2 separate regions of the Homo sapiens genome follow, and region 1 is linked to region 2. Evidence: fine-mapped expression QTL. A gene starts in region 2. The other region holds a variant in brackets. All regions are shown on one strand. Distances are from middle to middle.

Region 1 (15,235 bases), 220 kb after region 2:
GGGAGCCCGGGGCCCTGCCTGGCACTGCACCACACTGAGACCCCCACCATCGCTGCCCTTGAGGGACAGCTCTTGGGGCTTCCAGAAAGTTAAGATCTCATCAGTGAGGGGTGCGTTCTTAGGGCAAACTCGGGGCATGTGATGTGTAGGACAGTGTGAGTAGCCCACACATTTCTCTCTGCCTTTCGGGGCTGTGCTTGTCTTTCTGCTTCCTCGAAAACCGTCATCCTCCCTTCTCACTCTCCCAGGATGAGCTCAGACCACACCTCTCCTGGAAGGCATCCCTGCCTGCTCCAGGCCTTCCAGACCCCTCCCTCTGGGGTTCCTGTTACCTGCAATGCTTATTTCTGTATTTAATCTCATGTCCCTGTGCTGTCATTGTCCTGTTGCATGGCATCCATTTCCAGGTGAGGCTGTAGCCTCCACAAAGGCAGGACCAATCTGGGCACCCGGAGACGCAGACAGAGCTCGGCCCCAGCCTTGTGAGCTGAATTGGAGGGTGAGAGCTCCGATCCTTCCATATTTTCCAGGGGAGGGGATCAGGAATGTATTAAGGCATTGGGCCTCTCTTCTCTCACCTCTACTACCCGACGTCAATCCATTTGGGGAGTAGTTCTCAGTATCTTGTGCATCATGGTGAGAATGGGCAAGTGCCCAAGGATGGTGGACCCCACTGCCCACTTTCTTCCCTCCCCACTGGCACTCAAGGGAGACGTCACCAAGAGGGCAGCCTCCTGACCGGCTCTGGGCAATGGATGCCTCTTTGGGATCTTGTTACAAATACAGGGCTCTCTAGGGAGCAGGGTGTGGGGAGGGTCTTCCCAACATGGGGGCTGGGGTGCTATAGGGAGCCCGGCTCAGAGAGGGTCTCTACCTGACTCTGATGATGTGGGCCATGTAGCACAGTGAGGAAGGTTCTGGCCATAAGCTGGGAGCCCTGGCTCAGATTTTAAGGTCTGCTGTTCACTAGTTATATGACTTTAGGCAAATCAGCAAAAGTCTCTTAGCATCAGTCTCCTCATCTGTGAAATAGGAATAAAAATATTCACCCTGCTCAGTCCCAGGAGTTGAGCAAAGGCATTTGAAGGTGGTGGCATCCCTCTGGGAAACTTTCCTCTTTTGATCTTCTACGTACCATGCACTCTGTATATTTAAATCCTGCATACCCATCCCAACACCCCTGCCAGGTCACTTTTAAATAAGATGACTGGAGCTGGAAAGACGAACTAAACTGTCATGATGGGAAGTGGGGAGGTCAGGATTTGAACCCAGGTCTTCGGTGGGGTCCCACCTCTGGCTCTCATGATGCAAGGTACGGATTGCAACACTCAGGCAGGGGTGAGATGGGTTGAGAGATGGCAAGTGGAAGAGGCCTCCAAGTCTTATTTCATTCAATATCTGTTTGCAGAATAGCAGGAAGTATCTTCAGGGGAAATTAACAACACAACAAAGTCTGCTTCTGGGTGTCTGCTATGGATTGATGAGTTCCCCCAAAAATTCATATGTGGAAGCCCTAACCCGTAATGTGGTGATATTAGGAAATGAGCCTGTGGGAGGTAATTAGGGTTAGATGAGGTCATGAGGATCAGGCCTTCATTGTGGGATTAGTGCCCTTATCAGAAGAAGAAGAGAGATCTCACTTTCTTTCTTAGTCCATTTAGGCTGCTATTTTAAAATACCATAGACTGGGTGGGTTATGAACAACAGAAATGCATTACTCACAGTTGTGGAGGCTGGAAAGTCCAAGATCAAAGTGCTAGCAGATTCAGTGTCTGTTGCGCACTCACCTTCTGGTTCATAAAGAGTACTTTTTTTTGCTGTGTCTTCACATGGTGGAAGGGGCAAGACAGCTCTCTGGGGTCTCTTTTACAAGGGTACTAATCCTGTTCATAAGGGTTACACCCCCACAACTGAATTATCCCCAAGGATCCACCTCCTAATACCAACACACTGGGAATAAGTTTCAACACATGAATTCTGGAGAAACACAAACACTCAGACCATAGCACTCTCTCTGCCATACGAGGATACAGAAAGATGGCAGCCATCTGCAAGTCAAGAAGAGAGTCCTCACCAAACACCAAATCTACCAACATCTTGATCTTGACTTCCCAGCCTTCAGAACTATAATAAATAAAGGTCCCTTGTTTATAAACCACTCGGTTTATGGTATTTTGTTACAGCAGCCTGAGCTGACTGAGACAACGTCCTGGTGTCTGTCCCAATGCTTCACCGTTCTGGCTTTTCAGCATGAGTCACCTGTGCTCCTTCTCCCTGGAGGAGCCCTGTCTGGGGCAAGACCTTTGCAGAAACAGTGAGGCTTCTTGTCACTTTCCTCATTTGGAAATCAGGGATTTGGATGACAACTGGATTCCACCAACTGAGGTGTCTCTGAGGCCATTTGAAAGGCCCAGTTAGACAGAGGTTATCTTCCACAGCTCTTAGCCACTGCTGTTGGCAAACAAGGATTAGAAGAAACAGGAGACTTTCATGAAGCAGAGTTCCAGGATATGTTTTCTAGCTTCCTGGGTGACAAGAAGCAGTGAGGGCAGTGACAACTTCTTCATCTGACTTCCATTAGGAAGATTCCTTGGATTGCAGCTTCATAAAATTATTCTCTAGCTTCCTGGATGTGGAAGGCAGTTGCTTGGCAGATACCAAGACTTCATGCTCCCTGTTTGACCCTAGGGGCCTCAAAAGCAGGCTGTTCTGGATGTGAGGGAGGAGGGAGGGACAAGCTTAGGAGCTGCTTCTTCGGCCCTTTCCACAATATTATAAGCACCTAATTCTCTGCATACCTTCTAGTGCCCACCTAGAATGGGCACTAGACCTGAGTGGATACATACTCTTGGAAGGATCCAATCCCAGCAATAAGGTTGTTATTAACTAAGATAAAGGAAACCCACATTATACAGCTCCTCCTGTCTCTGGGTCAAGGGAGAGCGGGCAGGCAGGAGAGTCATCTTAGAACCGCATGCCATGTGTTCTCATTCCATCCAGCAGGTGACTTGTGCCAGGCACTGCTATCTACACTGGTGAACAAGACTGAGGCCCTGCAGGGTCCTGATGGGTACTAGAGGCTCTGGTTCCAATATGAGGAGGATGAACACTTCAGCACAGTTGTCTTTTTAGTAGACGGACCAGGAAATCAGAGGAGCTCTCTGTTACTCCATAAGGGCTGTGGTTCTCAGTAATAACTAATGGCTGTTGTTCTCAATAATAACTAATGGCTGTGGTTCTCAATAATAACTAATGGCTGTGGTTCTCAGTAATAACTAATGGCTGTGGTTCTCAGTAATAACTAATGGCTGTGGTTCTCAGTAATAACTAATGGCTGTGGTTCTCAGTAATAACTAATGGCTGTGGTTCTCAGTAATAACTAATGGCTGAGGTTCTCAGTAATAACTAATGGCTGTGGTTCTTAGTAATAACTAATGGCTGTGGTTCTCAATAATAACTAATGGTTGTGGTTCTCAGTAATAACTAATGGTTGTGGTTCTCAATAATAACTAATGGCTGTGGTTCTCAGTAATAACTAATGGCTGTGGTTCTCAGTAATAACTAATGGCTGAGGTTCTCAGTAATGACCAAAATCCAGCAGCAATGCATTATAGTCAATGGTAGAACACTGCTGCATTTTGGTCATTCCTTGAAACCCATTTGCTTGAAACTCAGTTCTGCTACAATTGCAGGGATGTATGCAGGAAAAATATTAACTCAGCAGGCTTAGGTTGTCCAAAGCCTGCACCTTCCCGAAAAAAGTTTAGCCCTTGCTTTGCTTCTAGGAGATAAGCTCTAAACCCTTGGAATATCCTGCCTGGTTAGATTGTCTTTTTTTATCTGGGGGCTTTGATGCCATGCTGGATAGCTCATGTTAACCATGTGATTATGGTGGGGGCTTCTAGCCATGCTAGATGGTTGATGCTATCAATGTAATTCATGGGTGGGTAGGGGGAACTTTGAGCTATGTAGTTTTAATTTGATCTCTGGCGACTTAGGCACTGAGGTCAGTTCTACAGGTGTTCCATGACTATGTGACTGACCCCAGTGAACTCTCTGGATACCAAGGCTTGGGTGAGCATCCCTGGATGGAGCACTTTGTGTGTGTTGTCACACATTGTTGCTAGGATGGGAGAATTAAACACTGTCTGCAAAATCCCACTGGGAGAGGACAGCTGGCAGCTTGCACCACGCACTTTTTACCTTTACTGGTTTTAATCCATATCCTTTCAGTGTAATAAACCATAACCATGCATATAACAGCTTTTCTGAGTTCTGAGTCCTTCTAGTGTAGCCGAGTCCAAAGCTCAAACTGCTTGCCAAGCAACAGCCAGTAAGTCGAGAGACAAGCTGTTGGGGCAAGGAAGATGGCTTTACAAGGCAGCAAACCAAAGAGATGGTGGACTCATGTCCTAAAGAGCAATCATAAAAGGCATGAACCTCAAGCTTCTTTTTATATTGGGGAAGGCAGAACAAGGAGGAGGTTGAGCCGGGTAGTGACAGGTGACCACAGACATCTGGGTGTCAGCTGAGGAGGTTGCATTAACTTCTTTGTTCTTGGTCAGGTCACAATGCTCCTATAAATCGTTAGCATAACATTGTTACTGTGTGTATGTCTTCCTTATTGCTTCAGGGGTGTTGCAAAGGGACTATTATCATCCTTGCTTTAAAGTGAAACTATAGCCAGGTGTGATGGCTCATGCCTGTAATCCCAGCAATTTGGGAGGCCAAGGCAGGCAGATCACCTGAGGTCAGGAGTTCGAGACCAGCCTGGCCAACAGGGTGAAACCTTGTCTCTACTAAAAATACAAAAGTTAGCCGGGTGTGGTGGTGCACACCTGTAGTCCCACCTAGTCAGGAGGCTGAGGCAGGAGAATTGCTTGAACTCAGGAGGCAGAGGTTGCAGTGAGCCGAGATCGCGCCACTGCACTCCAGCCTGAGCAACAGAGCGAGACTCTATCTCAAAAAAAAAAAAGAAAGAAAGAAAGAAAAGAAAAAAAGTTAAACTATACACTAAATTCCTCCCACAGTTAGTTTGGGTTATATGCTAAAGATATTGCAGGGTAGGGGTGTGGTCAGGAGCAAAATGGAGTTTGTTATTCTAGACCTCCTTTTCATGGTTATGCTAGTGAATCATTAAACCTGGGAGTGGTATTGGGTACCCCCAATAAGAGATGGAAAGTTTGACTGAATTTTAGTGCAATATGATAACAGAGGGGAGAGCCACCTGTTGTGATGATAGGGAAGCGGGGTAAGGTACCATCAAGCTAGCTTCCAGTGAAAAAGAGTGTTTACCCAGGAGTACTAGGTCCCACAGGTACAGGAGGGAGTACGGCAAATGAGGTGAGAAATTCTACTCAAATAGTGGCCAGGCACAGTGGCTCATGCCTGTAATCATTGCACTTTGGGAGGCCAAGGCAGGCCAATCACCTGAGGTCAGGAGTTCGAGACCAGCCTTGCCAACATGATGAAACCCCATCTCTACTAAAAATACAAAAAATTAGCTGAGCGTGGTGGTGCACATCTGTAATCCCAGCTACTCGGGAGGCTGAGGCAGGAGAACCGCTTGAACCCGGGAGTTGGAGGTTGCAATGAGCCGAGATCATGCCGCTACACTCCAGCCTGGGCGACAGATTGAGACTCTGTCTCAAAGAAAAAAAAAAAAGAAAAAGAAAAAGAAAAAGAAAAGAAATTCTACTCAAATAGTGATCTTGTTGGGAAGATGTCCAAGTTAATTCAGTTACAGAGATCAACATCATATATCTTTCATTTCATTAGACTTGTCAACATCTTTCCAAGGAAATTGCTTTTGGATTTGTCATGGATATTCGATTTTGCTTTATTTGTTTGCTATCATTTTTGTAATTAGTTTCTGCTACATTAGACCCTTTATCCATCAATACCACAGTGTTTATTCAAATATATTCCCACTACATGTCTATGAATGTTATTGATTATTGAGTATTGACTAGAGAAAGAATCTCTTATATGGGTAGCAAGAACAGAGAAGTTAGCTTATAGAAAGAATTAAATCAGTAAATTTAGACGCAATTGTGCAAATTAGCTAGTCTTGACAGGAAAGAGAAACTTTGAGATATTCGACAAAATAAGAAAGGAAAATGGCAGAATGAGAATCGATTTGCATTCTTTCAACCATAAGAATGAGGATGTTGATCTGGTTAACTGCCTCTTGCTAGTAGATCTGGGGAGGAATTGGAAAGACAAAGATTGAGGTCGTGAAGGGGAAGAATAAGACAAGTAAAGCACAGTCACGTTGAGCTGCTGGTTTTGGTGACCTATGGCTCCCCGGCGGCTGTGATTGGAGTCTGAAGCTGAGAAGTCATGAGGCTAAATGTCCCGATTGTCTTGCCAAGCTGCTTAGACCTTGCCACTTAGACCTTGTTGCTTAGAAGGAGACACCAGAAACCAGGAACTTGAGGCTGGGATAAAGCAGATGCTTTCTCTCCTGGTGCTCTGGGAAGGGAGTTTGAAGTAATCTAGGCAGCTTGCTGCTTGTGCCTTCATCCTGGCGGGCAAAATCACCTTGAGTGGAGGTAGAACACGTGTATCTGCCAAACTGTGATTCTCTAAGGGCAAGGATTACATCTCTGTTTTTTTGTTTGTTTGTTGGTTTTTGAGACGGAGTCAGGCTAGAGTGCAGTGGCGCCATCTTGGCTCACTGCAAGCTCTGCCTCCCGGGTTCACGCCATTCTCCTGCCTCAGCCTCCCAAGTAGCTGGGACTACAGGCGCCCGCCACCACGTCCTGCTAATTTTTTGTATTTTTAGTAGAGACGGGGTTTCACCGTGTTAGCCAGGATGGTCTTGATCTCCTGACCTCGTGACCCGCCCGCCTCGGCCTCCCAAAGTGCTGGGATTACAGGCGTGAGCCACCGCGCCCGGCCCCCAAAAGGAAACTCTTGATTTGACCTCCTGCAAACTCCCCAGCCTGATCCTCTTCTCATCACAGTAAATTACACCCATGGTCCCCTTTTTCTCAGACCAAACTCCAGTCACCTGGGCAACATCCTTGGCTCATCTTTTGCTC[G/A]TGCCCCAGCCATTGTGTTAACCCAAGACCCTCAGATCTGTCCACTTTTCTCCATTGCCCTCCCACCCCCCTCTTTCTCCCTGATTACCACAGGGCCTTCCCTCTTGAACAGGCACAAGAGCTCCCCAGTCTGACTCTTGTCCCTATTCACTGTGGCTAGATTGCACTTTTAAAAACAGTTACCAGAGGCGGGGCGGGTGGATCACCTGAGGTCAGGAGTTTGAGACCAGCCTGATCAATATGTTGAAACCCCGTCTCTGCTAAAAATACAAAAATTAACTGGGCGTGGTGGCATGTGCCTGTATTCCCAGCTACTCGGGAAGCTGAAGCAGGAGAATTGCTTGAAGCCAGGATGCAGAGGTTGCAGTGAGCCAAGATCGCGCCACTGCACTCCCGCCTGGGTGACAGAACGAGGCTCCGTCTCAAAAAAAAAAAAAACAAGCAAACAAAAAAACCAACAATGAATATCATCAATACAAAAACCACCATACTGACAATATTAGTACGGGGAAGAGGATGGTGGGAAAAGAGGAAGATACAGAAGTCCTCATCTTTTGCTGCAGAGAGTCAATAGAAAGATTCAATAATGTTGTTAAAAACAAGATGAGAACGTGGGAGCTCAGAGAGTGTTATGAGTTGGTGGGGTGTCCACACTGGGTGGGGGCTGGGAGCAGCGCTGGTCAGAGCCTGGGCAGCAGACAGGACATGGGTCAGCCCAGAGAGGGGCGGCAGAGCTCATGAAGGGTGAGGCTGGGGGTGGGGGAGTCTGGATAATAACCATGATTTCATCATTTTCTAGCTGAGTGATCCTTTATCTTTGAGCCTGTAGACTGCCTTCACGGCACTTACCCAGGTCTTTTTCTTTATTTCGGTGATAGTTGTACTTGAACAGTGCCTGATACTTAGTGGATGCTTAGTAAATGTTTTCGCTTATTTTTTATTTTTATTTATGTATTTTTTGTGACAGAGTCTCCCTCAATCACCCAGGCTGGAGTGCAGTGGTGCAATCTGGACTTACTGCAACCTCCACCTCCCAGGCTCAAGAGATTCTCATGTCTCAGCCTCCCAAGTAGCTGGGATTATAGGTGTGCGCCACCATACCCAGCTAAGTTTTGTACTTTTAGTAGAGATGGGGTTTCACCATGTTGGCCAGGATGGTCTCAAAGTCCTGGCCTCAAGTGATCTACCCACCTCGGCCTCCCAAAGTTCTGGGATTACAGGAGTGAGCCACTGCGCCCAGCATTTTGGAATGAATGATGGTGGGGAGTGAATAAGGGTCTCACCTGGGTACAGAGATTGACCTGACAGAGGGCAGTTGGGTGATCCTGGTTCATGTTCCCAGAAGGGAATTTCTGTTATTTAGCCTCTGTCTTAACCACCAGATGATCCCACTGGGCAGGGGGCTCAGTCATTAGAGTCCAAGACTGAGCACCACCCTGGGGACCCAGGCAGGCGGTACTGAGGACCCAGCCATCCCCAGCTCACAGTTCTAGCTCTGGCATCCAGTTTATGGATTATGTCACAGTCCCCAAAATGTATGGGTGATCTCCCCATATACCCCAAATTGAGAGTAGCAGCCAACTGCAATACTCTTAAAAGAGGTAAGAAAATGTAACAATCAACACTAATAGAAAAGTCTTACAGTGACGAAAGGAGGCTGTGTTTTCCCATCATCTTCAATCGTACTCATCCAGGAATCTCCTGACTTCCCTTCCCCACAAGTGGCAGGAGAGCAGCTGGCACGGCAGCCCGGAAACCTCTGCTCTCTTCTGTACTCATCTTCCCTTAAGTTGGCCCATTACCAGAGTTTGGTTCCGTTTTTCTGTTTTCATGGGTTTAGGATTTTGAAACCCATTATTGACTGGAGACTTGAACCCCACGGAATGCAAAGACAGGTCCGTTAACATTGCATGTGGCTCACAGACCTGAGATCACGAATGTCCACTACGGCATAGGTGCCTCTCGGGGGAAACACATTCTTCTCATGTTTTCTACTGCATTGGAGACCTCAGAAGGAAGAAGGGCTCTGTCAGGCCCCAGGGACTGTGCAGAGAAGGGAATAGCCCCAGGTGGCACGGCTGCAGGAGATAGGGGACTAGGAGGCTGTTCCCTGAAGCTGGGGCCAGCACTGCCTCTAGAACCACAGTCAATTCCCCATAGAAATGTTGTTTTTCTGCCAGGTGCGGTGGCTCACACCTGTAATCCCACCACTTTGGGAGGCGAAGCGGGAGGATCTCTTGAGGTCAAGAGTTCGAGACCAGCCTGGGCAACGTGGTGGAAGCCCATCTCTACAAAAAAATTTAAAAATTAGCTGGGGGTGGTGGCATGTGCCTGTAGCCCCAGCTACTCTGGAGGTTGAGGCAGGAGGATCGCTTGAGCCTGGGAGGGGAAAGTTGCAGTGAGCAGAGATTACACCATTGCATTCCAGCCTGGGTGACAGAGCAAGACTCTATCTCTAGAAAGAAAAAAAGAAGAGAAAAGAAAATGTTTTTTCTTCTGTGGGAGGGCCTTTCGCCCTGGACAGGACGTCAATGGGCATTGGGACTCTCATCATCGGGCTGACTCCTCCTCCTTCAAGACCTTCTTTGTGGTCTGTTTACCCAGAGGACGGTCCCCAGCATGCTCAGGAGCAGAGGCAGCTCCAGGAGGAACAGGAACAGGAAGTGGGTGCTCTTGAGCGGGGACCTGTGGGAACACGGTGACAGGAAATGAGCTGCCTCCTGGGTCAGAGGTCTCAGGTCTTCTCAGCTCTATGCCCAGATCCTGGCTTCCAATGTCTATGTGAGGGTAAGCCTGGAACCCCAGACAGGCCAGCCCCTTTGGTGGGGCACAGTCACACTGCTCACCAGCGAGGCTCCCAGTCCTCCCTACACCTCCAGTAAACTCAGCCTGGCATTCAAGGTCCCGTCTGCCAACTCCCATCCGGCCTTTTTGGCTGGTCTCCCATAACTCCTCCTCACCTATCTTGAAGGGGTTTAGCATTCCCTGTCTCTACTTACCTCGGCTTCTGCTGCATTCTGCACCCAGAGGGCCTCTCCGCCCTCATCGCTGCCTGTGCAAACGCTACCCACCTTTCAGGTATCAGATCTGACATCATATTCTTGAAGGCCTTGGAGGCTGACCTTGCTCTGACCCTCTTCCTGTGGACCAGCACCTGGCCCTGGGGTTCCTTATGTTCCCTGTTACTTTCTATGGATGTGTAAGGCCCAGAACCTTATTGACCATCAATTCCACCCCCTCACCATCCTCCACCCACTTCCCAGGGTCTCGACCTCCCAACTTGGGCCTTCGTTGTTTCTTTCACCTCAGCGCAACTTGAAGCCACTCTCAGCTCACGGATAAATTTTAAAAATCAGGCCAGGCGTGGTGGTTCGCACGTGTAATCCCAGCACTTTGGGAGGCCAAGGCAGGTGGATTGCTTGAGCCCAAGAGTTCAAGACCAGCCTGGGCAACATATTGAGGCCCCATCTCTAAAAAAAAAAAAAAAAAAGACAGAAAAGAAAATTCAAAATTATATCCAACTCCAGAATGCCGGATGAGCCCTCAGATGATGGGACTGAGGGTATTTGGGGGAGATGGAGGAGGGGCTATACAGCAGGCCACGGGTCAAAATGCCCCCAAAGGTCCTTCCCAGCATCTTCACTCTTGGGGCTCTCCTGCTACACCTCTGGAGTCCTTTGCCCTCTGTCCCCTGACAGCTAAAGTCCCATCAGTTTGCACAAAAGCATGGAGGAGGAAAAAAACAAACAAAAAAAAAACAGTCGAGGAGTCCTAAAGCCAGCTCCGTGGGTGGAGCTCTGCAGATGCATTCTCAGAACTCAAGATCGAGTGAATAAAAAAAAAAAAACAGAGTTGAACTGCAGAGGGAACTGGCAGACCTTGAGGAGTAGTTCCAGGAGGACTGAGCCAGAGACACGGGCCTCTGCGCTGGGCTCTAGCAGGAGCAGGACGGTCTGTGGTTTGGGCTCTGGCCTTGACCTGGGGGGCTTGACCACAGCAGGCCGTGATGGAACCCAACGGCTAGCTATCAGGTGCCGACCTCTGGGGACTCCTCTGGACACCTCCAGGGCTGGTGAGCATCAGACTAATCCTCCAGACCCCTCTGCCAGCTTGGGAGGGTGAGAACGCCAAACTTCCAGCTTCCCCCTTTCCCTCTAGCATTTTCCATTCCCCTACTCTGGTGTCTTGGGAGAGAGAGGCTGGAACAATATTTGTTCTTGGGCAGAAACTAGGAGCAGATGAGAGAGGTGTCTCTCCTAACCCACTAAAGGCCAAACCTCGATATGCCCTCTTGACCCCAGGAGGTGGGGAGGGCATGTTCAGGCCCCTCTCCTGCCACCTTCAGTCATGTGGTGGCTCATGTCTGTGCTGCAGAGTTTGCCTTCATGTAGCCAACACTTAGATGGGAAATCTTATTTTCCTCAAAGGTAAACTGAGATTGGGGCAGGCCATCGGAGGTTTGCAGTGACTTTACTGATACAAAGACGAAACAGCAGGGGCCTATGGGGGTCCCAGCCTGAGTACCCCCAGAAAACAGGGCTATCAGAGTTAACAAATAAAAGCATAGAATGCTCAGTTAAATTTGAAGTTCAGATAAACAACATATGCTTTTTTAGTATAAGTATAGCCCATGAAATAGTTGGGATATACTTATGCTAAAAAATGTTTTGTTGTTTGTCTGAAATTGCAGTGTAACTGGGCATGCTATTGTTGTATCTGGCAACCCCTGTTAGAGGAGAGGCCATGGGGCCAGGCCTGTGCGAAAGTGGTGGGACCTGGCTCCACCTACCTGGTGAGGGGGCTGCTGGTCTTCTGGGTGGCTGCAGCTGTGAAAGCCAGGCTTGCTGTTGTGGTTGTCCATTCTGAGACTGCAGTTTGTGTGCCTAAACATACAAAGCAGAACACGGTTCACCCCTTCCATGGATGGCCCAGCTCTGGCTGTGGCCCTAAGGCTTCTCCACCTAGGAATTAAGGAGCCTCTGCCTTGGGGTCCAAGACTGTCTGGTCAGCATCCAAAATATTACATGAATTATCTTCTAAAGAGAAGTTACTGAATTATTACCATGTGAGAAATTCTGAGGAGCAGACTAAGGAGGGAATTTGCAATCATCAGTTGCATGGCACAGCTTAGCACACTCGATAGCATTCCGCTCTCCTCGGGCTAGGCTAGCTCTTTTCTGAGTCTCGGCCACAGCCGAGGTGAACTCCTTACCGCCTGTTCTGGAGTGATTCGGCGGCTGAGCTGGTGGCCCCCTCGCTGAGCCACTTCTGGAGAGCCCCGGATTCCTGGCTCTCTGCAGCCAGGCCCAGCGCCCTCCACCTCCGCTCTTCCCTCTCTGGCCGTTTCCTGTCTTCCAGCAGCTTCCCAATCTCACCCTCCCTACCCCTGTTGAAGTCTGGCTATGTCTGATGCATCCCAGCCTCTGCTGTGTGCCAATTCCTGCTGGACCACACCCTACTCACGCTGACGGTGTGTGTAGTGAGTTTTGATATTCAAAGTTTGCTTCAGGAGCAATCTAATAATAAGAGATCACAGCATCATATTTGTCTTTTTATATCATTTTTCTGGGATTAAATCAAGGTATAACTGACACATAATAAACTGTAAATATTTAAAGAGAACAATATGTTAAACTCTGATGTATGTGTATACCCGGTAACACCACCACCATGATCAGGACAGTCAACACATTCATAATCCCCATGCCCGCCCTCCCCCTTACTCTGTCCCCAGGTGTTAGGGACTGAACTGTGGACCCCTAAAAATTATATGTTGATATGCTAGTCCCCAGTACCTCAAAATGTGACTATATTTGGAGATAGGACCTTTCAAGAGGCAATTAAGTTAAAATGAGTTTGTTAGGGTAAGTCCTAATGCCATCTGACTGGTATCGTTCTCTGAAGAGGAGATGAGGACACACAGGGAGACACCAAGGCATGCGAGCACAGAGGGGCAACCGCAAGAAGGGGTAGCAAGAAGGCAGCCACCTGCAAGCCAGGGAGGGAGGCCTCAGGCTCAACTGAACCTGCCAACACCTTGATCTCGGACTTCCAGCCTCCAGAACTATGAGAAATACGTTTCTGTTGTTTACGCCACCCAGTCTGTGGTATTTTGTTGTGACAGCCTTAGCTAAGGGATGATCCATTTTCTCTTACTATCTATGAGTTGGCATTTTCCAGAATCTAATATAAATGGAATCATACAGTGTAAATCAGCTTTTGAGCTGGTTTCTTTCACTCAGCATAACTATTTTATCATTGGTATATCAGTAGAACATTCCCTTTTATTGCAAGTTGTATTCCATTGCATGAGTATTTCACTTTTTTTTTTTTTTTTTTTTTGAGACAGAGTCTCTCTCTGTCACTCAGGTTGCAGTGCAGTGGCATGATCTTGGCTCACTGCAACCACTGCCTCCCAGGTTCAAGCAATTCTCTGCCTCACCCTCCCAAGCATCTGGGACTACAGGTTAGTGCCACCATAGCCAGCTAATTTTTTTTTATTTTTAGTAGAGATGGGGTTTTGTCATGTTGGCTAGGCTGGTCTCAAACTCCTAGCCTCAAGTGATCCACCTGCCTCAGCCTTAACAAAGTGCTGGGATTACAGGCGTGAACCACCACGCCCAGCCTGTATTTCACATTTTTAAAAAAATCCACTCACTTGAATTGTTTCCAGTTTTTTGCTATTACAAATAAAGCTGCTATGAACATTCACATACAGGTCTCTGTGTGAACATAAAACTTTCTATTATTTTGACTAAATATGGAAGTGCTGAGGGGCTGGATCATCTCTGGCGGGCATACATTTCATGTCTGAAGAAACTGCAAACTCTTTTCCCAGGTGGTTGCATCATGTGCATTCCCACCTGCAGGGTATGAGGGCTCCAGGTACTCGAGAGTGTTTCCAACACTTGGTGTCAAGGTCAGTAATGTTAACTTTTGTTACAGGCCGAAAGAATGAGAGTCATGACCAACACAGTATAGCACTGGAGGCTATATGAGCGAACAGAAAACTGTTCTCATGAAAGCAGGATGTTGGAAAACTGGCAACGGTGTCTGCTGCCCGAAGGGGTGCTGAGGGCAGTCACACCCCAAGTGCTGTGTTCCTTGTGATTATCTATAGGAACATCTGAAGCCTGTTGTACAAAGAAAGCTATTGTGTGTACCTGTAATAAATCAAGCAGCTGACCAACCATTACCTCTCCCTCCCTTCTCTTTCTACCTAATAAATACGAAGGGCTGTAGAAGCTCAGGGCCCTTGTTCACTAGAAGCAAGGAGCTCCCTGACCCCTTCTTTCAAAACAGATCTCTTTGTCTTTGTCTTCATTTCTGCATTCGTCCCCCCTTTGTTCAATCCCCTAGCAACCAACAGCGACAAGTGGTGGCCGGGACAGGAACGTGAGCAAAGAAGGTCTGCTGGAGCAGAGAAAGAGAAACTGACAAGACGAACGAGAAACCCTGGAACAAGTCTGCCGGCAGCCAATAAAAGGTCAGTGCCCTAAAGAGGTACTGGGAGCGGCAGCAGATACAAGATCAGTGCCCTAAAGAGGTACTGGGATATCAGGTCAGTGCCCTAGAGAGGTACTGGGAATGGGAAGTTTTCTGAATAAGGGTAACATGGGGCAGAATTTGTCTATTGAGGTGCAACATTATGTGCATTTGCTTAAAGTTTTACTTAAACAAACTGGTGCTCAGGTTAGTTCTCAAACATTAATTAAGATGCTGAAGAAGGTCACTATACATAACCCGTGGTTTCCACAGACAGGCAGTCTTGATGTAGAAATTTGGGACAGAGTAGGACCAGGATTAAAACGGGCTCACCAAAAAGGTCTTAAATTTGATCTTTTTGTTTTTTCTGCTTGGAGTTTAGTCCGTGCTGTCCTCCTGCCATTATCTTCTTCTTATTCTGCTAGACAGCAGGAATCATATTCCAAGTCTAAAAATCTGAAAAAATATTTTGTCCCACCCACAGTACCAATTAAAAATAATAAACAGGAGAAGGAGGATGAAAACTGGCCTGTGTCACCCCCTCCAGTAGCAGAAACGTCTGTACTGCCTCCTTCAGTAGCAGAAATAGAGACCCCAATACAAAGAATTTTATGCTCTGCTGCTATAGCTGGAAAGCCCTTAGGACCTTGCGCTTTTCCTATTTCCATAAGGCCCGATCCAAATAATCCTCAGCAGTTTATTCA
Region 2 (15,235 bases):
GTGGCCAGAAGAAAAGCCTGGGCAAGAAAAGGGAGGAGTCGCTGGAGGCAAAGAGAAGGAAGCGGAGGTCCCGATCCTTCGAGGTCACCGGGCAAGGGGTGAGGCGAGGCGCAGGGGTGGGTGTCTAGGCACTCCCATAGCAGCTGGAGGCCTGAGGGCTGGATTTCTCCAAAGGCTCCAGGGCACCTCTAGCCTACCCCATACCTGGAGGCACCACCCTCCACAGTCTCTGTCCCCAGCCTAGCATAGTAGCTGGGACAGATCCTGGTAGCAGATCCCTGTGCCGCTCTCGGCCTCACCCCACTGTTCAACCATCACAGCTCTCCCACCCCAAGACACACCTCCTGGGGCCCCATCAGGCGGAGCGCATCTCGGACCACAGGATGCCAGTGTGCAGGCACCCAGCCCCTGGTATCCGGCATCTGGGAAAGGTCACGCTACCTTTGGCCAAAGTCAAACTCCCTCCAAGCCAGAACACGGGTCAGTATGGGCAAGGAGGGGATGGGGAGGGGAGGCCTCCACCAGGCAGGGGAGCAGAGAAGACACATTGCATTTCCTGCGCCTCTGGCTGCCCCTTGCTGGAAGCATGGTTCTAGCAGAATACTCATGGGACTGGCATCCTGGGGTGGTGCCCCTAGAGAGTTCAAGGCCACTGGGTGATGGGAGAGGAGTTGGGGAGGCATTCCGAAACCACTGATCCTGCCCCTTTCCCTGTTGCAGGCCCGGGGGACTCCTCACCCCTGGCTGTTCCCCCCAACCCAGGTGGTGGTTCTCGACGGGCTACCCGTGGGCCCCGCCTGCCCCACGGCACAAGCACCCATGGCAAAGATGGATGCTCCCGGCATAACTGAGGGGCCCTGCCTGGAACTGGCTCTCTCACCTCCCAAGACTGAATGGGGTCTAGCAGGGCATGGGAGGTGGAGGCTGGGCAGATGGAGATGACCAGGAAGTAAGCTCAGGATCTCAGCAGGCCAGGGCTCCTGAGACCCAGGAACTGGGGTCTCTGCCCAACCCTCCCATGCTTTCAGTGCCACTGGGGAAAAGAGGTGAGGCCAGGGGACATGGCCAGGACGGCTGGGCTCCCTGGCTTCCCAGCCCTGGACAGAATGCTGTTGCCAAAACCTGCACAGCCCTGAGGCCAGCCTCGGCCTTGGTAACGGAGGAAAGCAGCTGACAGTGAGACGGGGCTCCTGGCCCACGTGTGGGGCACGGGCATCCTGGATGGTTGGGGAGGCGCCGACAGGCACTTCACGTATTACAATTGGGGATGTGGGTGAGGGAGGGAATCTGGTTTTGTTACTTGGCAGTGGTTTTTTCTCACCCTTCCTTTTTAACAATAAAATCCCATTTGGGTCTTGATGGTTGTGTTGGAAATTTGACCTTGTCTGGAATGTGGGGTGGCCATGACTAAGATTCAACCAACTCCCGCTCCCCCTAGTCCCCATCTACCCCTGGCTCGCTATATAGCACCAACCTACAAATACCTGGGGGAGAGGGGTTTTTCTCTAGATCCTGAGGCCTCTCCCCATGGTGGGGCTAGCAAGATCCGTTATGTCCCTATCCCACTGGCCTTCACACCTGCCCAGGCACCCTCCCAGGAGAGGTCAGGGACCTGAGGCGGCCCAGATGCCAGAAAGTCTCACAACCCAGATGAGGCGGTTGCCCCTCGAGGTCAGGGCTCAGAAACTGCCCAGCTAAGCCCCTCAGCCTCAAAGTGAGGAAACTCCTGCAAGGGGAATGGGGTGCTCCCTGACTCCCCCGCAAGGGGAATGGGGCGCTCCCTGTCTCCCAGGCAGGTGGGTTGCTGTGACCATGTGGATGCTTTTACCTGCCCTAGTTCTGTGTCTGGGTGGGGGGAAAGCTCAACAAAGGGGAGTGAAACCCCTAAACCCCCTGGCTTGTGGGACCCTCCCTGGGTTGTTTTTACCCAGAAACTGAGTGGTTCAATCATCCCTTTACCACTCTGAGCATCGGTTTATTCAGGACCAAGAACGTTCCTTCAAGTCAGCTGTGAAATCAGCTCTTGAAACCAGGCATCTTGTCTACCACGCCTCACCTGGACTCCACCCCAGCCCTAGGGTGGCCGGCGCCTGGCCATCCAGGGGACCAGGCTTGTTGCCACCTCCAGGCTCGCCTTGCCCTTCCCAGACCCACAGGGACCACCTAGGCCAGGCCTTTATTCCCAGACCCCGAGGCTACTTGGGGGTCCGGATAAGGGTGTGGTATACGGGCTTGACGATGAGGTGCAGGTGCAGGGCGTTCTCAACCAGGTACTCGGAGTTGCGCCGCTGCAGGTCGGCGTGCGCCAGGAAGTCGCCGGCCTCCTCGCTGCTCTGGTGGAAGCTGTAGGCGTGGCGGACCAGCAGGCGGCCCTGCTGGCGCGCCCCCACCAGCACCGTCTTCTGGAAGCTCACGCCCGCCGCGTCGCCGCCGCTGCTGGCCGGCGTCACCACCAGCCGCGGTCGGCCGTCCTCCGGGCGCGCGGCGGGCAGAGCAGTGCCCGCGGCGTCCGCGTAAACGGGCCGCAGGCTGACGGGCAGCCAGCGCGGCGAGAAGAGCACGTTCCAGGTGACCCGGCGGCCCGCGTCGTGGCCACTCGGGCCCAGCTGCGTCTGGAAGCTGGTGCTGCGGTCGTCGCGGGCCGGGTTGTTGATGACCCACGGGGCGCCCCAGGCGGGCGCGAGGTAGTTGCGGGGCAGGAAGGCGCTGCCGTTGACGTCGAAGAACTTGGCGTAGTGCAGCGGCGACGCGGCGTGGAACTGGTAGGCCTGCAGCAGGAGGTCGGCCACCGCGGGGCCGTGGCGCGCCAGGGCTGCCGAGCGCGCCTGCAGCTGGAACAGCTGTGCCGGTGGGATCATGGGGTAGCGTATGGCGCGCAGCGCCCGCTCGGCCACGGCAGGGGGCGGCCGCGCGCGACCCAGCCAGGCCTCCAGCGCGTGGAACAGCTCCAGTTCATCCTGCAGCACCAGGTCCGAGCGTTGCAGGAGCTGCCAGAGCAGCTCGGGGCTCACGGCGCCCCACTCGGTGCTGGCCGCCACGGCCGACAGGTTCCAGGCCAGGAACTGCAGGCAGCTCTCGCGCAGGGCCTCGTCCCCGGTGCCCACCGCGTAGTGGTACCAGCCCACCGCCGGGCCCGCGCCTCCCGCCAGGTGCGCGCGCATGTAGTCGGCCACGCCGCGCTGCAGGGAGGACACGCCGTACTTGGTGGCCAGTCTGTGCAGGGGGATGGCCTGGGTCAGCAGCACGGTCAGCTCCCCGCAGTACAGGTACCTGCGGGAGAGACCGAGAGGTGGGGCGGGGTCAGGGCGGTACCCACCTCCCAGGATAGATTTTTTAGAGTCCACAGGGGACCCGGCCTGGAGTTGGAGCTTCACTGTCCGGGTGCAAACACAGTGGAAGCCCCACCCTGAGGCTTCCCATGTTTTCCTTTCAAGGACCCTTCCAGGCCATTCTTACTTCACAGGCTCTTCTTTCCGTTTCCGCGGTGATGTAGAAATTGCCTGCATTGACTGTGCCTCTACTAGGCGTGCAGCCCTAGGCTGGAACAAAACAGACGTGGCTCCTGCCTTTGGGGTTTCCAGTCTGGTTGGGATCCATGGCCTGCCTTCTCCTTGCCATGAGTCTGGGCAAGTCACTTAACTTCAGTGAACCTTAGGCTAATCAATCACCTAGGAAAGGGGGAGTGGCACACACCCCTCAGGGTTACTGTGACAACCAGAGGAGAATAAAGAATCTTGCTACAGGCCAGGTGGGTGCTAGTGGCTCACACCTGGAATCTCAGCACTTTGGAAGGCCAAGATGGGAGGATTGCTTGAGGCCAGGAGTTCAAGACCAGCTTGGGCAACATAGCAAGACCCTATCTCTACAAAAAATAAAAAATGTTAAAACATTAGTCATGTGTGGTGGTGCACGCTTGTAGTCCCAGCTGCCTGGGAGTCTGAGGTGGGAAGATAGCTTCAGCCTAGGAGTTCAAGGCTGCAGTGAGCTATGATCATCATGCCACGACACTCCAGCTTTTTTTTTTTTTTTTTTTTTTTTTGAGATGGGGTCTTTCTGTATTGCTCAGGTTGGTCTCAAACTCCTGGACTTGAGCAGTCCTCCCACCTTGGCCTCTCAAAGTGCTGGGATTACAGGTGTGAGCCCCCATTTCTTTTTTGCAGCCTCACCTTTCTTTTTCCTCTCCTACTGTTGGTGATCACTTCTGCTGAGTATCTCTTCGTCTTACTTCTGCCACTGTCCCATGGCTCACCTTTCCTGCCAGTCCCCACCGGCACACGGCACCGCACTTGCCTCTATAGGAGTGTGGCAGCCACTGCCAGCCATCTTCCCCAACGTCCATTTCTCCCCTTTCCCCTGCGTGATTGCCTCTGGGAATAAAAGACCACATTTCCCAGGCTCCCTCATTCTGGCCTTGGCCATGTGACTAACTGCTGGTCAATGGGCGCAGTTTGGGATTTGCAGGAAGGCTGATTAAATGCAACTGATTCCGGGTTAACAGGAAGACCCTTTTTGCCCTTCTGTCTTATCCCCTTTCCTGTTGCCTGGAACTTGGAAGCAATGTATGGAATTCTGCAGGCATCTCGTCTGAGCCGTTAGAACAGAGTTACTTTCTTAGACACTAGTGTGAATGGCACCCCCTGAGCAGCATCACGGCAGGAGGCAGGAGGTGGAGAGAGCCGTCTAACTTTTTCAGCTCCCTAGCCCTGTGGTTCCAAACCTGGCCAAACACCAAAACCACAGCGATGCTTTCAAATAAAAAATATTCGTCTATAATGGAATATTTAGGAAAATAAAAAGTAAATAAATAAAATAAAATAAAAAATGATTGCTGGCCCTAACCCTAGACCTGAAACTGACAATCCAGGTTGGGATCCGTGAAACTGTAGTTTTTTTGTTTGTTTGTTTGGTTGGTTGGTTGGTTGGTTGGTTGATTTTTTTCAGACAGAATCCTGCTCTGTCACCCAGGCTGGAATCTAGTGGCACAATCTCAGCTCACTGCAAACCCAAACTCTGCCTCCCAGGTTCAAGCCATTCTCCTGCCTTAGCCTCCCAAATAGCTGGGATTACAGTCGTGTGCCACCACACCCAGCTAATTTTCTATATTTTTAGTAGAGACAGGGTTTCACCATGTTGGCCAGGCTGGTCTTGAACTCCTGACCTCAAGTGATCCACCTGCCTCAGCCTCCCAAATTGCTGGGATTACAGGCATGAGCCACCGTGCCCGGCCCCAAAACTGTAGTTTTTAAAAGCTGTCTATGGCCAGGTTTGGAAACAGCTCTGAGGGGGTTACTAGGAACCGAAAGTGACATCAAACTGCACAGATGACACGGGCAAAGACAGGGAGCTGTACAGTGGAAGAAGGGATGCAGGGGTCACTGTCATCCCAGTGATGTCCGGGGAAATGGACATAACAACCTCTAAGGGCCTGGGCTTCCCTGACCCTGTAGGTGGAGGAGCCGGGGGCTGAGGAAGGGATGAAGCCATCCCCTAGTCTTCCGCGTCCCCACCTGATGAACTTGTCGAAGACAGCGGCGCAGTCCTGTGGCTCCTGCAGCACCGCCTCGCTCTGGTTACTTAGCAGCTCCAGGAACAGCTCACTGTGCAGTCCCAGCAGCAGGCGGTGGGCGTGGAATACCCGGACCTCATCGGTGCCCGCAGCCTGCACCCGCAGAACCACATCGCTGGCGTTGCCCTGCCGCAGCAGCTCCTGCAAGCGCTGGAGCACCGCCTGGGAGTGGTTGATGGAGGTGCCAGCTGCCTCCCCGCCAACATCGGCTCTCTGTGCTGCAGCAGGAAGGAACACAGCATAGCCTGAGAAGGTGCCCGGGCCCAGAACCTCAGTCAGGGGTGGAGAGGGACCAGCTGGAGACATATGCATGGGTGTGAGCAGAGGGCAAGGTGGGCCTAGGCGGGTTGTATGTGCATACCTGTTTGTGCCCACGAGGCGCGTGGATGCATCGGTGCACATACAAACGCACCCTGGGTGGGAAGGTCATGCCAATGCAAACCCCAAGAGGATGCTCTTGGAAGGGGGTGCATTCAGGCAGGGGGAGGTTGTGCTCAGGTTTAGGACAACATGCCCAGAACTCATCTCCATGCTGCCAGCCCCCCAGGCAAGGGTTGAGGAAACTCGTGGTCCCACCCTTCTCACTTCCTAAAGAATTATCCATCTAACCCCTTGGAGCAGTAGTCAGAAGTGGTGCATTCACTAACAAATATTTATTGAGCACTTACTATATGCTAGACATTCTCCTAAGAGCTTGGGATGTGGCAGTGGACAAAGCAAGCCAAGTTCTTATGCTCATAAAAGCACGAATTGACATATCAAACGGGTAAGACACACACAAATAAGCACTCCAGTTTTAAAGGAGCCAGCCAGGGAACCAGTGTCAAGGCAGGCTCCAGCCCCGCAAAGGCCCTTGAACGGAATGGGCCTGGGGTACTGGGAGCAGAGAGAGCATTAGGGAGGCCACAGCAGTAGCAGGAGAGAGGGGCGGGTGTGAGACGAGGCTGCGGGTGTGGAAGGGAAGCTGTTTTCCAGGCCCAGCCCTGCCCTCTTGGGTCCTGATCTCTGAGACAGAAGCCGATTTTCTGGGGTGGCCAGCAGGGGACAGGAGAAAGTGCGAAGGGCCAGCTGGTGCTGGAATAGAACTTCCTGGGTAACTGAGCATTGAGGCTGGCCAGGCCGGCCCTTTGCTTATGCTCCAGGATGCCCCGACAGTCAGATGGGGATATGCACTCAGTTATAGAAACTGTCAGCAGCTTTCCCAAGCCGAGAACAGCGAGGGGAGCCTCGCAGAGGGAGGCGGGCGGGGGCCTGATTGCAGCAGATGGGCCGCAGCCACATGTGCACGCACAGCACATGCAGGCCCGTGGTGCACACAGGAGAGAAGGCTCACACAGGAGCAGAGCATCTGTGCATGAGAGAGGGAGGCCGAGGGACAAAGGGAGGGTGAAAGAGAAGCGGGTAGTATGTTTCCCAGCACGGCCTTCCCCAGCTGTCACTTTGAAGGACCTGAATGCTGATGGCGTCCCCATTCAGCCTCTGCCCAGGACAATGGGCAATGGAGGGTCCTCTTGTCCTTAAGAGCCCTGCCCACCTGCCTGCCAGGCCCCTCCTTCCTTCAGACAGATGAGTCCGTGGAGCTGTCCGGTCCACCCCGTGCTCTCCCCAGCAGCTGGACACCGCCCCCTCCTGGCCGGCCGCGTGCAGCCAGGGCTGGGACGACCTGCCGCTCCACCCTGCCCCGCACCTGGCCCACTGCCCGCTCACCTGCATGGGTGACCAGGCCCACCAAGGTCAGCATGGCCCAGAAGCTGCCCCAGGACCCAGGCTTGGAGTAGCCTCTCCTAGGCATCTTTATGCTCAGCCCCCAAGTCCACTGGAGGGACGGTGAAGCCCAGACCACTCTGCTCACATCCCTCTTCCTTATATAGGATCCGGCACAAGGGGACGGCACCCCCCTTCCTGCTTGGCCTCCCTCCCCCACTCAGCCTCCTCCATGGATTGGTGGAAACTGGCCCCAGCTGTTGCCCAGGCAACCACTTAAGCCAGAGAGCGGCAGCCCCGGGGGCTATTGTGCTGCCTGTGGGCCCCCAAGGGGAACAGATCCGGAACCCTCCTCCCCCAATCTCCTTACCACCCAGCAGGGCTAGCCGTGCCTCTCCCTGGAAAGTTTCAGGCTCTCTGCAGAATAGGCGAGGGGCTCCAGGACCACTGGCAGCCATTGGCCTGAGGGTCCCCAGTTCCCTCCCCCAACCCCAGGCCTCGGCCCTGGCACAGAGCACACTTGGCAGCGTCGTGCCTGGAGCACCATGGTGAGCCGGCTGCAAAGGAAGGGCCTGGAAGAGGAAAGGAGAGGCGGCTGAGGCTCCCACCCCTCCCCCACTCCCATTTTGGGGTGGGGCAGCTCCTCAGAGAGAAGCTCAGAGATCTCTCGAATAGGGGCCCATGGGCAACTGATGTCAGTTTCATATTCTTTGTTGAAGAAGGTTCCTGGAATGCTGTGGGGAGGGTGATGGGCTGGCAGGAAAGTTCTGTGGGGACTGTGACTGTCGCCTCCCCCAGGGGCAAGCTGAGCCAGGTGGCAGGGCTGGGCATAGAGCAGATGCACCCTGCCCCGTGCACCACTGCATGGGTGACCCCTGCCCAGAGCGGGGCTGGCCACCTTCTAGCTCTGCGCTCCAGCCAGCCCAAGGCTGGGGACTGTCTGCCCTGCTATTTCCTGACTTGAATTCTCCTTCCCCAAGTGGCCTCAGGTCTCTGGGTTCACCTCCTTGGAAGGCTTGTTTTACCAGCTTCTGTCTTATTTCCCACTGTAATTTTTCCTTTTCCAGGCTAAGGAGGCATGCTGCAGACCTGGTGTTTCACTCCCAATGTAAGGAAACTGAGGCAGGGAGCTAGGTTGCAGTCTCAGTTGGGTTAGTGCAGAGGAGTGCTCTTCTAAAAACAAAGGCAACAGAGAGAGGAAAGTGAGTCTGGAGCTCAGCAAAAGCGCGCGCGCATGTGTGTGTGTGTGTGTGTGTGTAGGGTGGCATGCTGTGAGTCCTCACCTTTGCAGGGAGCCAGCAGGGTCTGCCCCAGTTCTTCGTGGGAGGGACTCCTTTGAGCTTGGCTAACCGAAGTGGGTGACTCCCAAGGGATCTGACTCCGAGGCAGGGCTCTAGGTTGGGGATGAATTAAATCTTCCTCTCCCTGGCTCTCTGGATCCCAGGGGCCAGCTCGATGCATTGATTTCTGCCTCTGGCTGGCACAGAGACCCAGCAGCTCCACCCCCTCTCTGGAGCCGCAGAGAGAGCAAGAACTGGGTCTGGCACCTGCCTCGTCCGGGTTGGCAGAGTTGGAGCTCTCCAGCCCAGCGGAAACCCCTCCAGCTGCCCTGAGTTTCATGCCTGGCTCCCCTCGTCCAAATCCACTATCCCTTGCCCACTGGCTGCCCGCCTGCCCTTCCCATGGGCTGTACCATGTCCTGGCTCAACCCAGCAAGTCCAAGTCTCCATGCAGCAGGGCAGCCCTGGTCCCTGAGGGCATCCCAGCTTCCAAGCACAGTGCTTTCGATAGGAATGTTATTGATGATAAGAGAACCCGCTACTCAGAAAACTGTCGTTTGATATTTGTGCCTCTCAACTCCAGCCTCCTTCAGCCTCTGCATCAGTCATTCTTTGTTTTGTTTTGCTTTTCTAGAGGCAGAATCTCTCAGTCACCAAGGCTGGAGTGCAGTGACACAATCATAGCTCACTGCAGCCTCAAACTCCTAGGCCCAAGCGATCCTCCTGCCTCAGCCTCCCAAGTAGCTGGGACAAAGGCAGTGCCACCACGCCTAGCTAATTTTGTGTCAGTCATTCTTGAAGGGTAGCCACCTGCATTAGAATCTCCCATGCTCCACCTTGGAACCAGGATTTTCAGGGGCAGGGTCTGGCTGTCTGTATTTTCTAAGTACTCCCAGACAATTGTTATACGCACCCCAAGACAAGCGCTACCTACTAGAGCTAGATTGGTGGCATTTCAAGTGTGAAGGAAGCTGGGAGGCCCTGGATCATCAAGAAGACCCGGAAGAGTCACCTCTGACTCCCCATCTCTGACAGGCCCCACCTCCCATTATTTCTAATCTCCCTTATCCCTGGCCCTCTTCGAATGATTTAGAAACTAGCTTTCCACATAGAGGCATTCTCTGTTCTCATTTTCTTTTTTTCTTTTTTTTTGAGACGGAGTCCTGCACCATTGCCCAGGCTGGAGTGCAGTGGCACAATCTTGGCTCACTGCAAGCTCTGCCTCCTGGGTTCACACCATTCTCCTGCCTCAGCCTCCCGAGTAGCTGGGACTACAGGCGCCCACCACCACGCTCAGCTAATTTTTTGTACTTTCAGTAGAGACGGGGTTTTACCGTGTTAGCCGGGATGGTCTCAATCTCCTGACCTCGTGATCCGACCGCCTCGGCCTCCCAAAGTGCTGGGATTACAGGCGTGAGCCACCGTGCCCGGCCTCTCATTTTCGTAACAGAGCATTGCTGGAGTGTGTGTGTGTGTGTGTGTGTGTGTGTGTATGGTATGCATGTGCACATGTGTGTATGCAGTGCGTGTGTGTGCATGTGCCTATTTATATGTGTGTGCGTATTGTGTGTGTCCATGCATGTGCGTGGTGTGTGTGCATGCATATTTGTGGATATGTGTGTGTGGTATGTGTACATGCATATGTATGTGTGGGGGAGTGTCCTGGGGCGGGAGAGAGGAAGCCAGGTATTTGCCCTGAGCCCTTTTTTTTTTTCTTTTGAGATGAAGCCTCGCTCTGTCGCCCAGGCTGGAGTGCGGTGGCGCCATCTCAGCTCACTGCAACCTCCACCTTCTGGGTTCAAACAATTCTCCTGCCTCAGCCTCCTGTGTAGCTGGGATTACAGGTGTGCACTACTATGTGCAGCTAATTTTTGTATTTTTAGTAGAGATGAGGTTTCACCATGTTGGCCAGGCTGGTCTCGATCTCCTCACCTCAGGTGATCCTCCCGCCTTGGCCTCCCAAAGTGCTGGGATTACAGGCGTGGGCCACGGTGCTTGGCCAAGTCTTTGAGAGGAAGAATCTGCAGCACTGCATATATATATATATATATATACACACACACACACACACACACACACACACACACACACACACACACACACATATATTGGCCCCATGGATCTGGGAGCGCCATAATTCCTTGAAGGCAAGTCTGATGAATTCACAAGCCAGCACCATCCTAGAGAGGAGTGTTACTTCCCGCCCCAGACGGGAGTGTTTATAGCCCAAGCCATGTGTCTGAGGTCTTATGACCAGGAACCTCAGAGGCAGGATTTATTTTTCGAGTTCTGAGTTGTGCTTGACTTTTCTTTTTTCTGATTTTTGTTGTTGTTGTTGTTAGATATGGGGTCTCACTCTTTCACCCAGGCTGGAGTGTGGTGGCACTGTCATAGCTCACTGCAGCCTCAAATTCCTGGGCTCAAGCAATCCTCCAGCCTCAGCCTTCCAAGTAGCTGGGACCACAGGTATGAACCACTGCACCTGGCTACTTGACTTTTCTTTCCACAACCCCATGTTGTGTTTTTGTTTTGTTTTGTTTTGTTTTGTTTTGTTTGAGATGGAGTCTCACTCTGTCGCCAGGCTGGAGTACAGTGGTGCGATCTCAGCTCACTGCAACCTCTGCCTCCTGGGTGCAGGCGATTCTCCTGCCTTTGCCTCCGGAGTAGCTGGGACTACAGGTACCCACTACCTGTAGTGGCTGGCTAATTGTTGTATTTTTAGTAGAGACGGGGTTTCACCATGTTGGCCAGGATGGTCTCGATCTCCTGACCTCGTGATCTGCCCGCCTCGGCCTCCCCAAAGTGCTGGGATTACAGATGTGAGCCACCATGTCCAGCCCATGCTGTCTTTTTGGGGAAGTTTTTCCAATTGTGATAAGTGATCCCTTTGGACAAGGAATCTCTAGTACTGTAAAAGCAACGGAAAACTCTTGCAAGCTTGGGACCAGATAAAGAGTTTCTGAATCTGCAAAGGGGGTGATCAGACACTGGACTGTGGTAACACCTCAGAGGGGTGGGCTCCAGACGCAGCCTGGCCCTACCTGGCACCCTCCCTTGCATCTGTAGTGCCTCCTGTCCTGACTTAGGGTTCCCTGAGTCACTGGGCCACTTGGACTGGGGACAGGAGATCATGGGTTTAAGTTCCAGGCCCCGTGTACACAGGGGAGCACATAAAGGTAAATATGAGGCCGGGCATGATGTCTCACACCTTTAATTCCAGCACTTTGGGAGGCTGAGGCGGGTGGATCACTTGAGGTCAGGAGTTCAAGCCCAGCCCGGGCAACATGGTAAAACCCCGTCTCTACTAAAACTACAAATATTAGCCAAGCTTGGTGGCTGGTGACTGTAATCCCAGCTACTTGGGAGGCTGAGGCAGGAAAATCGCTTGAACCCGGGAAGCAGAGGTTGCAGTGAGCTGAGATTGCACCCCTGCACTCCAGCCTGGGCAACAGGGTGAGACTCTGTCTCAAACAAACAAAAACTTAAATAAGAAGGAATCCTTGGCCAGGTGTGGTGGCTCACATCTGTAATCCCAGCACTCTGGGAGGCCGAGGCAGGTGGATTGCATGAGCCCAGGAGCTCGAGACCAGCCTAGGCAACATGGCGAAACACCGTCTCTACAAAAAATACGAAAATTAGCTGGGCGTGTTGGTGCTTGCCTGTAATGCCAGCTATTTGGGAGGCTGAGATGGGAGGATCACTTGAGCCTGGGAGTTCGAGGCTGCAGTGAGCTATGATCACACCACTGTACCACAGCCTGGGTGACAGAGTGAGACCCTGTCTTGAGGGGTAGGGAGGCAGAAGGAAAAAAAAGAGAGAGAGAGACCCTGGTGCTCAGGCCTGGTGGCTCTGGCTGGACTGATCAGGGCTGAAGACTTCAGAGACCAAAAAGGTCAAGGTGTGGCCGGGTGCGGTGGCTCACACCTGTGATCCCAGCATTTTTGGGAGACCCAGGTGGGCATATCACCTGAGGCCAGGAGCTCAGGACCAGCCTGGCTAACACGGTGAAACCCCGTCTCTACTAAAAATACAAAAATTAGCCAGGCATGGTGGCAGGCACCTGTAATCCCAGCTACTTGGGAGGCTGAGGCAGGAGAATCACTGGAACCCAGGAGGCAGAGGTTGCAGTGAGCCGAGATAGCACCATTGCACTCCAGCCTGGGTGACAGAGCGAGACTCTGTCTCAAAAAGAAAAGAAAAAAAAAGTCAAGGTGTGCGGCTGGGTCTTCATAACATCTTTCACCTTGCCCAGGCTGGCTCAGAGGTGACTGCCTTAGTGGATAGGATCCCTTCCACCGTGGGCTAGCAGCCTACCCTGGTCACTGACACCACACCATGTAGGAAAGAATCGCCACCACCAAGAAGGGGCCTCTCACCTCTGTATAGGCTGTGTGCTGGCTGATGACGTGGTTGCCCTGTCCTGTCTGCTGCTGCCACTGAGCTGGACATCTCCAGGCTCCATCTCTTGAACCATGGATCCCAGCGTTGTTAGCAATGAGTATTATGATGTTGCCCATGGAGCAAAAGATCCAGTGGGTCCCCACTTCCCTGCAGGACATCACTGCTGTCCTGGGTACAGAAGCATATACTGAGGAAGACAAATCAATGGTGTCCCATGCACAGAAAAGCCAGCATTCTTGTCTCAGCCATTCCAGGTGGCTGAGGTCTCCACAGGTCACAGGGGGAAGCTGGGACCTCCGAATAAGGCCATCCAAGGACTCCAGCAGTTTCCGCCAGGTGAATCCAGCTGCCTCCCAGAACAGGCCTTCTATGGGGTGGGATGGTAAGTTGCTGGAAGGACGTGCATGGGGCATCATTGTAGCAAACTCAGTCCCCCTCCTCCATCTCTCCCTCTCCTCGCTCTGAATCCAGGGAGCTCTAGTTTTCTGTGTAGCCTGTGTGACAGCCTTGGTTGAAACCCTTGTGTTCCGTCTGAAGAATATTTAAGGTTTCCAGTCAAGTGTACATCCCTCAAAGAAACAAAGTGGGCTTGGCATGGTGACTCACACCTGTAATCCCAGCTCTTTGAGAGGCCAAGGCAGAAGGACCACTTGAAGCCTGGAGTTCCAGACCAGCCTCGGCAACACAGCGAGGCCCCAAACTCTCTCTATATCTATACATAAAATTTAAAAAACAAAGTGTAGGGACAGGGTGGGCACTCGGTAAATGTTGGCAGGGACCCTCCTTGCCCCTCACCCATGGCAGCTCCTTGAAGAGAGGGTCAGCCTCCTCTCACCCCTAGCCTCCTGCTGCAAGGAGGTGGTGGCCTGGGGCGTCATCTGTGCTACTTGCACTTTCTGGGGCTGGGGTCCCAGCACTCCACCAGAGGACCTGCCCTGAGCGGGCAGCTCCGTCTCCAGTCCCACTGTGCCACCCAGGGTGCCTAGCCAAACCATGGGACTTTCAGGCTTGCAGGGTCAGGATGTGGCCACCAGGGGGCAGCAGGGCCTGCGCTGTGAGTATCCGAGGGGGGGTTGGGATGGGGAGTTCCAGGCTCTGATGTGAGATCTAACTCCCAGAGCTGGGAAGCTCCCTATATTTCCTGCCATATTTTCTGCTGCATTCCCAGAGGACAGGCCATGGGAGGTGATTCCAGGGGGGCCTGAGCTCTCCTCCCGAGACCGTCCACGGGGCATCCATGTCCCGGGTACCTGCTTGTGGGCTGCTCTGGTCACTCTTCCTCTAGGGCAGGAGAGCCAGTCTGGCCTCTTCTGAGTGCACACCAGCAACGGCTGTTGTTTATTTGCCAGGGATTGATATTCTTGAGGGATGGTCCATTTCACCAGGGCCAGGGAAACAACAGCTTGCAGGACTGTGGTTTCCCAGCACCGGCTGCAGGCAGCCTCGTCCGGCTGCTCCCAGAGGATGCCCCACCCTGTGCACGGCTGCCTGCCATCCTGCCCCTGGGGGTAGCCTCCACCTCCCCCACCATGGCCACTGCAGGACTGACCCTGTGCACCTGGTCCCCTGAGCCTCTTGGGATCATAGCCCTGTCTGTGGCAGCCTTACCACTCCTACCTGGCACGACTTCCCCAACTCCTCACAGAGGTGCCCTACTCTCTTCCCTTTCAGTCTGGATGCTCATAGAGTCAGCACCCTGAGTCCTTCTGCCTGTCCCCAAAGTCCTCAGCCCCAGGTTTGACCCCAGCTGAACACAGGCCAGCTCACAGAGTGCCCCGGGGCACGAGGCAGCCCCCCAGAACCCCCATCCTGCCATCCTGCCTCTTCTCCTCACTTCCTGCTCCCCCAGGCATAGACATACCTGTGAACCCCATGCCACCCTCAGCTCGTCTCTCCTGAAGCTGAAGCCCCTGCCCAGCCCGACCCCTTCCCCTGCCTGTGCGCCTTAGAGCACCCTGGTTTGCTCCACCAGCATCTACTCTAGCTCTTTCCCCGGTGCCTCCGCCCACCAGTTCCTTCCTCCTCCTTCCCCCGCCCCGCCCCCTGCACTAACAGGCTCAGTGTCTGCGTAAGGATCCTGGGGCAAACAACCACTTGGAGAGCCAAGGGGTGAGAGGTACAGCTGGCGATGCTGACAGGGAGCTGCGGGGACCCTCAGAAAAAGCCACAGGTGACCCAGGACTCAGGGCCCCAGAGCATGGGGCTTGAGGGACGAGAGACAGGTAAGGCATCTTGAAGTGGGGTGTGCTGGGGGCAATAAGGTGGAAAGGCAGGAGGGAACAGG

The links. PIP is the estimated chance that this variant, and not a neighbour inherited with it, causes the effect.
Region 1: its variant is fine-mapped to the expression of BTBD17 in cerebellar hemisphere (GTEx, PIP 0.97).

The regions. Positions count from the first base shown.
Region 1 is chr17:74,570,383-74,585,617 of GRCh38, forward strand. CD300LD (CD300 molecule like family member d) reads right to left here. Exons shown (of 4, transcript NM_001115152.2): 3 at 11,836-11,929; 4 at 8,983-9,731. The coding sequence ends at 9,620. CD300LD-AS1 (CD300LD antisense RNA 1) reads left to right here and starts at 14,297. Exons shown (of 3, transcript NR_171003.1): 1 at 14,297-14,532. The variant G/A (reference allele first, on the strand shown) is at 7,047.
Region 2 is chr17:74,354,462-74,369,696 of GRCh38, forward strand. It overlaps BTBD17 (BTB domain containing 17), which reads right to left and starts at 7,407. Exons shown (of 3, transcript NM_001080466.2): 1 at 7,274-7,407; 2 at 5,508-5,784; 3 at 1,955-3,270. The coding sequence starts at 7,358. The coding sequence ends at 2,196. It overlaps KIF19 (kinesin family member 19), which reads left to right. Exons shown (of 20, transcript NM_153209.4): 18 at 1-98; 19 at 321-480; 20 at 721-1,359. The coding sequence ends at 851. GPR142 (G protein-coupled receptor 142) reads left to right here and starts at 13,045. Exons shown (of 4, transcript NM_001331076.1): 1 at 13,045-13,333; 2 at 15,007-15,173. The coding sequence starts at 15,080. RefSeq lists enhancers at 2,494-3,366, 13,659-14,647 and silencers at 7,099-7,148, 7,229-7,278.